2 separate regions of the Homo sapiens genome follow, and region 2 is linked to region 1. Evidence: fine-mapped expression QTL. Tissue or cell type: whole blood. Region 1 holds a variant in brackets; the other region holds the start of a gene. All regions are shown on one strand. Distances are between the middles of the regions.

The links. PIP is the estimated chance that this variant, and not a neighbour inherited with it, causes the effect.
Region 2: it holds the start of OR56B1, and the variant in region 1 is the best candidate, but not a certain one, in a credible set for the expression of OR56B1 in whole blood (TOPMed, PIP 0.70).

Annotation. Positions count from the first base shown.
Region 1 is chr11:5,706,258-5,711,632 of GRCh38, reverse strand. It overlaps TRIM22 (tripartite motif containing 22), which reads right to left. Exons shown (of 8, transcript NM_006074.5): 5 at 5,017-5,039; 6 at 3,360-3,460; 7 at 3,030-3,056; 8 at 770-2,580. The coding sequence ends at 1,985. Among named protein-coding and RNA genes, the nearest start is that of TRIM22, 19 kb to the right of the region's middle. The variant C/T (reference allele first, on the strand shown) is at 2,520.
Region 2 is chr11:5,733,698-5,739,086 of GRCh38, reverse strand. OR56B1 (olfactory receptor family 56 subfamily B member 1) reads right to left here and starts at 2,639. Exons shown (of 1, transcript NM_001005180.3): 1 at 564-2,639. The coding sequence starts at 2,570. The coding sequence ends at 1,596. It also overlaps a transcript of OR52N4 not described here. RefSeq lists a silencer at 4,722-4,922.

The DNA.
Region 1 (5,375 bases):
TTGCCCGGATTAAACATTATTTCTGGTGGTATTTGTAAGGGTATTTCTGGTTGTATTTGTAAGGGTGTTTCTGGTTGTATTTGTAAGGGTGTTTCTGAAAAAGATTAGCACCTGAATAGCTGGACTCAGTAATGGCTACCTCTCCAAAGCTTGCCCTCCCCCAAGTTGCTGGACATCATCTAATCCATAAAGGATCTGAGTAGGAGAAAGGGTTGAGGAAGAAGATATTTGCTTCTTTTCCTGCCGCAGTACTTGAGCTGAGACATGTCACCTCATCTTTTTCTGCCTTTGTACTGGCATTTATACCATCAGCTCCCTGGTTCTTAGGGCTTCAGAGACACACTGACTTATATCACCAGCTTTTGGGTCTCTGGTTTCCAAATGGCAGATAATGGGAAGTCTTAGCCTCCATAATCAAGTAAGCCAATTCCTCATAATAAATACATATCTCTTATTGTTCTGTTTCTCTGGAGAACCCCGACTAATACAATATATTTCTTCAAGAATGTTTTGTGTCTTTGCTATCCTAGGTAGTTCTACTACTCATCCTGTGTTTGAAAAAAGACTTAAAAAAAAAAAAAAAGAAAAGTACCTAGGATGGTAAATGCAATGGTACACACAAGTGTTTCATTACGAGAAACAGATCTGAACAGCATAAGGCTGTCTCTTATCAAGGACAGCTGAGCCTAGACATGACCTTCTTTACTGGACATATGGAAACTCATATTATCTGCAGCAAGATTTTGGAAACTGAAGAATGAGACTTCAGTAGAGCCAGCTATTGTTTTATTGAAGCAAAAAGAAAACAGAACAAAAACAAAAAATTGTTTCCCAAGACATTGAAATGGCTGACATCTTTTCAGTAATAATCAGAACAATATTTATTTTTATATTTAAAATTCATAGAAAAGTGCCTTACATTTAATAAAAGTTTGTTTCTCAAAGTGATCAGAGGAATTAGATATAGTCTTGAACACCAATATTAATTTGAGGAAAATACACCAAAATACATTAAGTAAATTATTTAAGATCATAGAGCTTGTAAGTGAAAAGATAAAATTTGACCTCAGAAACTCTGAGCATTAAAAATCCACTATTAGCAAATAAATTACTATGGACTTCTTGCTTTAATTTTGTGATGAATATGGGGTGTCACTGGTAAACCAACACATTCTGAAGGATACATTACTTAGTGATAGATTCTTATGTACTTTGCTAGATAACGTGGATATGAGTTGACAAGTTTCTCTTTCTTCAATCTTTTAAGGGGCAGAGGAAATGAGGAAGAAAAGAAAAGGAATTACAGCAATACTGTTCTTTCTATAGGAAGGATTAGATATGTTTCCTTTGCAAATATAAAAAAAATAATAATGTTTACTACTAGTGAAACCAAGGTATTAGGAAAATAATGTACAAGCATCTCTTGCAAGAAAGGGTAAGATTGTTATGAGTGAAATCGTGCCTTCCTCAAATTTATATGTTGGAGTTTTTATTCCCAATACCTCCAAATATTATCTTATTTGGAAATAAGGTCTTTGTAGAGAATATAATGTTAAAATGATTTCATTAAGGCATTAGCGGTGGGCCCTGAGCCAGTATGACTGGTGTCTTAATAAAAAGGGAAAACTTGGGCACAGAGATGTACATAAAGACAATGTGAAGAGTCATAGGGACAAGATGCCTTCTACAAGCCAAGGAGAGAGGCATGGAACAGAGCCCTTCCTTGCAGACCTCAGAAAGAACCAACTCTGCTGGAATCTAGATTTGGGATTTCCAGCCCACAGTACGGCAATACAATTACAGTTTAAATCAGCAATCTATGATGCTTTGCTATGGAAGCCCTAGCAAATGAATACAAAGACATTCTAAGTAAAAGAAGGGGAAAGAAAGGAAGAGATGGTCTCAGTAGAGATGAACTCAGGTGCAGAATCTGAGTCTCAGCACAAGGGCTACTATGCAGAAGTGGGTAAAGGAATGAGAACACTCAGGAGCTCGGTGGGCACACAGTCATGGGGACTAGGCAGTTCCAAGGATTGAAATACGGATAAGCAGGTCGAGAAAAGCGACATCCAGAGAACTTGTAGATGAGTGCTCCGTGGTTTGTGACATTGAAAAATGAGACAATGCCTGCCTCATAGTCTAGGAAAACCCCAATACGACAGGGAGGCACAGCCATAAAGAGAGTCAAAACCTTGGGATCAGAAGAGGAGGAGTCCTCAAAAGCATTATATTCACATGTATTCTGTAATCCTATAACCCAGTAGCCATATTGAGGTCTATATCTGGAGTAAACTTTTGAATAATTTACACTTGGATCAAAAGCAAACCCAGAGCTCTTCCTTTTATTCAGACTACTTATTTTACTGTGTACGCCCAGGATCCAGGCAATCTTTCCAGACACATCTACTTCCCAGTAATATTTCCCCGAAGAGAAATATTGGCAGCCGAAGACACCAAAAGCAGAAAAATCACATGGATTTGAATTCTTAAATGTGCAGGTGCGTACAGTTTTCACTTGT[C/T]TCTGATCCACAGAAATAGCAACATTCGAAGTGGCACTGCCTGGATTCAGCATCACGTCCACTGTAGAAAAAATTACCAAGTCAAGTGAAGGATATGGGATAGGTGTGTCTTACAGCATTGAGAAGAGACATATTGAAAATGAAACTTGTGTCGATATCAAACGGAACTTGTGTTGATAGTCAGAGGTTAGTAGGACCCTTAAGAAATACAGGGTGTAAGACTATAAAAATTAGCCAAGCGTGGTGGCACACGCCTGTAATCCCAGCTACTTGGGAGGCTGAGGCAGCAGAATCGCTTGAACCCAGGAGGCAGAGGTTGCAGTGAGCCGAGACCGCGCCATTGCACTCCAGCCTGGGCAACAATAGCAAAAATCTATCTTAAAAAAAAAAAAAAAAAGAACTACATGGTTTAAGCATGTTTGGGGAGGAACACATGAGACTCAGATTATGAGATCTAATAGTAACCACAATTCTGAAAGGAAGTGATTTGAAAACCCCATATCATCTTACCCCAGTAGTACTGGACATCTGTCAGCTCTGAAACGACAAAAGTTTCAGTGATGTTGTTAGAAGCAAATAAGTAAGTACTGACACCTGTCTCTTCTCCAGAGTAGGGAAAGGAAAGGGGGAATACTGGGATTCTTTGCACTGGTGAATGAGAGGATGAATCAGACACCTGGTCATTCCCCCTAAGACAGGACCACATCTACAGCACAGGATTTTCCTCCTTCTCTGGCCCACCTCCTCTCCTATATCCTAACCTAAAAAAACCTCCCGCTTCCCTATTGAGCCCTGATACTAAGAAATCCACATTCACAGCCTTCCCCTGAATCCCCTTACCTTTAAGAACTTGCAGCATCCCACTCAGATCTGGTACTCGGAATACACTCTTTAGTTTCTTGGAAACAGATTTTGGCTTCTTCAATGTCCAGCTTTCACTCCTAGTGATAACAAAAATTGATAACCTTTACACCTTTGCCCTATTTCTCTCCATCCAAGATCACTGTCTCTTTCACCTTTCACCATACTTGCTGACGCACTTGGACCCTCTTCCCTGAGGACAGTAGAGGGGAGATGCCTGACACTGGAGTCCAGAGAAATGTGCTCATGTCTACCTGTCTGTGTGTAATCTTGGGAAGGTCTTCCCCTCTGTGTAATCTTGGGAAGGTCTTCACTTCAACGATGTTCGCTTTCTTACTTTTAAAATGCAATAATTAACCCCATGCTTTCTACCTCTTAAAAATGAATATAAAATTAGATAAAATAATAATGCTTTTGTTTGTTTGTTTGTTTGTTTGTTTTGAGATGGGGTCTCACTCTGTTATCCAGGCTGGAGTGTAGTGGCGCGACCTCGGCTCACTGCAACCTCTGCCTCCCAGGTTCAAGCCATTCTCCTGCCTCAGCCTCCCAAGTAGCTGGGATTACAGGTGCCTGCTACCACATCCAGCTAATTTTTTTGTACTTTTAGTAGAGACAGGGTTTCACCATGTTGGCCAGGCTGGTTTTGAACTTCTGACCTCAAGTGATCCGCCTGCCTCGGCTTCCCAAAGTGCTAGCATTGTAGGCGTGACCCACTGCACCCAGCCAATAATGCTTTTAAAAGATATTCAGTGCCTCTAAAAAACTTATTTAATATTTAGAAAAGTCATTGCCATCTCAGTGGGTCCACCAGGAAGAGGCCAGAGATGTGGGTTCCTAGACAGGTGGTCATTAAGGAGGCCATAGAATCTGTCTCCTGAGTTGTTGAGAGATATCAAAGTAGGATCCTATATTGAAGAGCTAAAGGGTTTCCAAAATCTGTTATCCCAATATGAGACCTAGAGAATAATGTCTGAGGTTTCAAGTTATTTGGGGAAAGACAAATTACGATGACTAAATTAATTAATAGTGGTCTGATTTTCATGTGTTTAAAAAAACTTTGATGTTGCCAAGTAGGTGGGCAACTTTAGACACAAGAATATTATTTTTTCCTACAAGACGGTAAAGTATGTGAGCAAGAAAAGGTTATGCTAGCACCAGGACCAAAGCCACTATTCCTCAAGACTTGAATCTATTTTTCTAGAAATCTAAAAAGCACCACCTAGAAAGTTATTGTTTATTTTATTCTCAGGGAGGAAAACAAACATAAAGGCGCTGTCTCTGAAAAATTTGGAGTCTGGCATATAAAAAGGGCAGAGCCTCACTGCAATAAGACAGGCATCTATGCAATATGGAAACAACAGAGACAGAGGTTTGAATAAAGTGAGTGAAGTCATGGGGTTCTGATATTGCAAACTCTTATTCCTAAGGCCTCCGTCGACCCTAACTCTGTGATCTCCCAACACCAAAATTTCTTACAATTGAAAACTTTAATCTGTGACTAGCAATTTGGGACAATTTAATACACAAATTTCCCAGCCTTTTGATTTTTTAAGTTGTTCTGATTGAAGGAAGATATCTCTCAGGACTATAATTCTCTTTTCAGACAAATAAGACCACATCTCTCTTCCACATATACCTTTTCATGACGTCAATCACATCCTGGGGAAAAGATAGAAAACATGAGTCAAGATAGGGTTGCCAGATTTAGAACATAAAAGTGGCTAGTTCAATTAGAATTTGGGATAAACAATATATTTTTTGTTATATATATGACCCTTATAATATTTAAGATATTCTTATACTAAAAATATTACATTTCTTTTATCTGAAATTAAACTTTAACTGAGCATCCTGTATTTTGTCTAGCAATGCTCAAAAAAGTAATAGGCCCTCCTATCTTACAAAGTTTTATCCACCTTCCTCCCCACACTCTTACTATCCCTGGATATGGTGGGAATAAATAGATGGTCACAGACTGGGGACAAAGTGTGGAGA
Region 2 (5,389 bases), 27 kb before region 1:
TGAAGTTTGTGTGAAAGGCCAGACTAATAAGAAAGATACATTATATTATTTTCATTTTACCTGAAAACTGATAGGGTTTACTTTTGAAATCTAACTGGAAGAGGAGTTGACATTATATAATGTATAACAGACTTTCTAGCAACTGGTATTCCTGCACCCAAAATTAATACTCATATTTCAAGGAATGTCCTAGCTATTTAATGGCATTAATCTGAGCATGTGTTTAATGGAAAGTAGCCTGGAAAAGATTGAAATACAAGACAATAATAGATTAAGCCTTATTTTGCCCATTCATTGTTTAGGACTATTTAAAAAAAAAAGAAAGAAAAGAAAACTCTCAAAGTAAAAATTTCACAGGGAAAAATTTCTATATCGACCTCCTGCCTGCAGTGTCTTTATATCTGATCATCTGAAGATTTTGCTGAAGCTGCCTACATTCTTATGTGGGTGTGGTAGTAGTAGTGGATGAGTAGCTATGGTAGAGATAGATGCTGGTGATATAAATAAAGCCAGTGAGTCAGTCAGGGTCTCAGAAAGGGAAAAAAAAAAGGCACAAAGAAATGTGAGTTTGAAGACAATTTAATGAAGTTGGTATTGAGTAGTAGGTTGTTTAAGAAAACAAGTGGATATTAAAAAATAATGGATGCTGGGCACTCAGAGACTACTATCAGGAAGCCTTTATCAGCCCCTTGGCCTGAAGAAAGAAGGCAAGACAAGCCTGTTACTATATTTCCATAAAAGCTGTAGCTGTAGCAGGTGGGTGGCCAGAGAAGGGACATATCCAGTGAAAACCCTCATGTCAAAGCAGGCTGGGAGTAGAATAATAAATAGCCCAAATGCTGTCTCCTCTTGAACTATAATCTGTCACGCATCACATTGGCTCAATTCAACTGAACACCGAAAGACAAAGGAGTTTGGGCTTACAATATGTGAAAGTCAGCCCTCCAGTTTACAGAGCAGTGCACAAAGGGCAGACAGCAAATCTGGGGAGGCAAACGGCGTAAGCACCAGATCCTTCTAGCTAGATGAATCTTTTGGGTTCTGTCTGTCCAAGCTGAGTCATCTCATATTCCACATAAATCCTCATCATTGACTGATTTGGCTTTATCTGAATTATTTTCTTTTCCGACCTCTGTATTTCATATTACTGGAGTAATGCTTGTTTAGGCAGACTGACTTTGCTCCCAAGTTACAGCTCCCAAGTTACAGCTAACAATGCGCAAGCATGACCTGTGATTCATGTCCCAATCACTCATTTGTCTGATTGAATGTATGTGTGTCTGTGTGTGTATTTGTGGGTGTGTGATTATATTCATTTTTATTTTAAGAGATAGATATCAATCATTAAGTTCTTTAAATCCAATTTGATTTGGCAGAAATTTCTTCCATATTCTCAAATATATTTAAATATTTAGCTTTTGTCAATATTTTAGGCTACTGTGATTTTTTGTATCTTTTCTGAAGCTTTCACAATTATTTACATACAAATATAAAAAGGGAATCCCAAAGGTATTCACTTACTCATTTATCCTCTTTGAAATTTTACTATCCAGTTTAGGAGAAGCTGAGGTTCATGTACATCATGGAGAAGGTCTCTAAGATCTTATTTCTTTTGTAAGGGCAAACAGCACCTTTTGGAAGGCTGCCCTAAGTTCTTTGGTCTGAAGTGCATAAACTGTAGGGTTGAGGGAAGGGGGGATGATGTTGTGCAACACATTAAGTAGAACTGGAATCAAAGTAGCCTTCATCTCTGTCAGATGAGTCACTGAAATCACTACAACAATAGTGTAAAAGAAAAGGATGAGGGTGAGATGTGAACTACAAGTGCTCAGGGCCTTGGCTGCAGCTTCAGCTGAGTTCAGTCTAAGTACAGAGTACAGAATCAAAATATATGACAGTATAATAAGACTTAGATCACTCCCCATTCCAAGCCATGCCAGAACCAACTGGCAAATGCTGTTTGGCCTCCTGTCATCACAAGCCAGGCTTGTGACCCCAAGGTTAGAGCACAGGCAGTGTTCAATTTCATTCTTGGAGCAATAATCACGCTGTGCTGCAAGCACAGGCACTGGAGTGACAAATAAGCCATTTCTCAGCACCATGAACAGGGTAGCTTTTAAGATTAAGGAACTGGTGACAATTGATGGATAGCGAAGAGGGTGACAAATAGCCACATATCTATCAAAAGCCATGCAGAGTAGGATACCAGACTCCATGCCCACAAAGAAGTGAATGGCATAAATCTGAGCAAAGCACTCAGGGAGGCTAATAACCTTGGCATCAAACCAGAAGATGGCCAGGATCTTAGGGATGATAGTAGTGGCCAGACCCATGTCTACCATACAGAGGATGCCAAGGAAAATATACATGGGCTGCTGTAAAGAAGGGTTCTGCCAGATGATGATGAGGATGAGGGTGTTTGCAGCAAGTGCTGAGAGATACAGTAGTGCCAGGGGCAGAGATAGCCAGTGTTGCCAGCTGTGAATGCCCGGGAATCCCAGCAGGATGAACTCAGAGACCTGGAATTTGGAGCTATTGGAGATTTTGAGAGATGCAGACATATGATTCATGATTCAACATGAATTTCAAATCTCTATTTGTATTGTTCTCAGTTATCACAGGTTGGAACCACCACAGAAATAAAATTGTAGTATTTTTCTAAGCCTTTCTTCATCTCTTTAGAAATTATATAGATTAAATGGATGTGCTTGTTTTCTTCATATTTATCTCAGTGTTACTTGACTTGATGCAGAGGTTTATTAACTAATAATAACTAGATTTTTTAAATGAAGAATTATGGGAGATGAAATTTATAGCTACATCATTTCAAGTTGATATAGATGTCCATTAACGTCTTACATAGCCTTTCAAAATTTTGATATCATGGACTTGTAAAGGTTTCCAGAAATAAATTATATTGAGGATTTGGGGATAGTTTTCTTTCATGTTCTATTTTGTATGCACTTCTGAGGAGGTTGCAAAAGAGTAGCTTAAAAGGAAGTTAGTGATTATGGCTGAATTTCTCCATATGAGAAGTCATATAATGAAGACATACCTTAGTAAGTTTTTTTATAGTTGAATCTTAGAGAACCTATAAAGACATAAATACAGGATTTAGGTAAAACTAATAAGAAGCTTTTAAAGATTCCTGTGATAACAACACAATATTAGATCAACTCTATTCATTTTTTAGTGAATACAGGCACAATGTTGTACAGCTGGTCTCTAGAACTTATTCATCTTGTACAACTAAAACCTTCTAACCATTGAACAGTAATTTTAACTTATTTAACAAACAAGAATTATTTGTCCATAATGTTGAAGGAATTGCCATTCAATGCTCAAAAATCATGGTTAAAATTAGACTCATTATCTTTTCTACAACTTTGTTGTTATCCATTTACTTTTTATTCTGCATGGTGGCTCGACCAGACAAGCTTGAATCTAGAAAACTAACCTTCCCTTACTGCAAATAATTGCTTATCATATTGTTGATTTCTTTTCTTTACTTCATTCATATGCACTCTTTTTTTTCAGTATGCTTTCTGCAACCTGCCTGGAGCAAATGTTTCTGATTTTCCATAATTCTTTCTTTCTGCTAGCAATCTGATCTTTCAGACACTGGTATTCCTTTGCTTAAAATAATTCATGGTTTCACATTTTCTTTCAAATACAATACTTTATTATTACAATCCTTTATTTATTTACCATTTATTATTTATTTACTATTACAATCCTTTATTTTGCATAAAACACTCTCAGATATGACTCAAACCGAAGTGAATATAATCTCTTGCTTTGAACTTCTTTGTATTTTACACTGCAGATACATATAATACTTACTCTATGCTAAAATTAGTAATTTTTCAAGGCATTTTATTTCCAATATTTTTGCCATGGTGGAAGCTATTGCAGGTTTATGAGCAAGAAACAAAAACTGGAAAGCTATGTTCAAAGGTTAAAATGTTATTTTTAATATATTAGTTATGGGTTGATTTTTGATATAATTATTGTTAAATACCAAAAAAATCTGGAAGAAAATAAAATTCTTTTGTTGTATCAATTCTTATTAAAAACTAAATGTATTTCCTTTCAGAGGTTTCTTACTGCCTGTATGTTTGAATAAACATATACTCCCAAATGATGGAGTAAATCATCCTTCTTTAATGGTGAATGTAATTTGATAAAGAGTAAAATTATCTAAATGTATCTACAGAAAATTTCAATGACTAAAGAGCACAAGCAATAATGGAGGTAAAGCTAGTTTGACTTTGAGCTTTTAGAGGAGAATTCTGAAGGGGTTCAACACAATAGTTTTATCCTGGATGCGTGGAAGTATGTAACCCATTTGATGTACAAGGCCTGGCATTTTTACTTAATACTCATTTATTACTTTACATCCTAATATCACATAACATTTTATCTTTGATGTTTTCTCTATTAAAATTTTTTTCTGATTTGTATATGTGTGATACAATTAAGAGAAGTAGTATGTTTGAGCTCACAGAAAAAGAATTGTTTTTAATTTTTTTTACAATTATATTCTAGCATGACATAGAATACGATTCTGCTATATAAAACAGTTAATATATTAACCCTGAAGATAATCTGGCAGTGTTGTTTTTTGATTACAGACAAGGTAACTTCTAGTGCACCATGTGAGCCTTAATATTTTCTAATTCTGACTTCAACCTTTTTTGGAAAGGCCCTCTAATCCTCTATATGCTACTAAAACAGAGAGAAATGTCAATCTTTTTGCAGAATGTTGACAAAACAACATAATGTTTAGGATAAGCCATTGAACTCTCTGGAATTTAGCCAAAGTGACCATGAGAAGATTTTATCACTTACCTTGCTTATGAACACAGACTCACAGTCTGGGATCCTAGGCGTGGCAGAAGTTTTCTACTGGGCAAAGACAGAACTTTATGAGAAAGATGCTTTAACACAAGATAAAAATGTGTTGTCAGCTAAGATGTGGCACAGAAATTATAAACTTCTGAAATTTATGGAGAGTAGTAAAGCAGCTCAGTGACCTAAGCATAATAGATCTCATTTGCAGACATGATGAAAGACCTATAGAGAAAGCTGAATTCCTAGGATGTTAAATCCCACTAGAATAGAAAGCAGATTAACTCAAAAACATGTATCCTATTAATGTAACCTAAGAATTTACATGAATAGAAGAATATCTTCATTTATTAAATCAAAATGGACCTATAAAGGTGAGAAATTTTAGAGTGTTTGAATGGTTTTTAAGCACACAAACTCTGGGTGTTCTAAATTCTGTGGCTAGGAGATTTATTTAAACATTTTTAAAGGAGAAAGCTTTCATTCAAAAATACATATTTAGTTCTGTCTGTGTTTGAAAAACATGTTAGGCATAAAG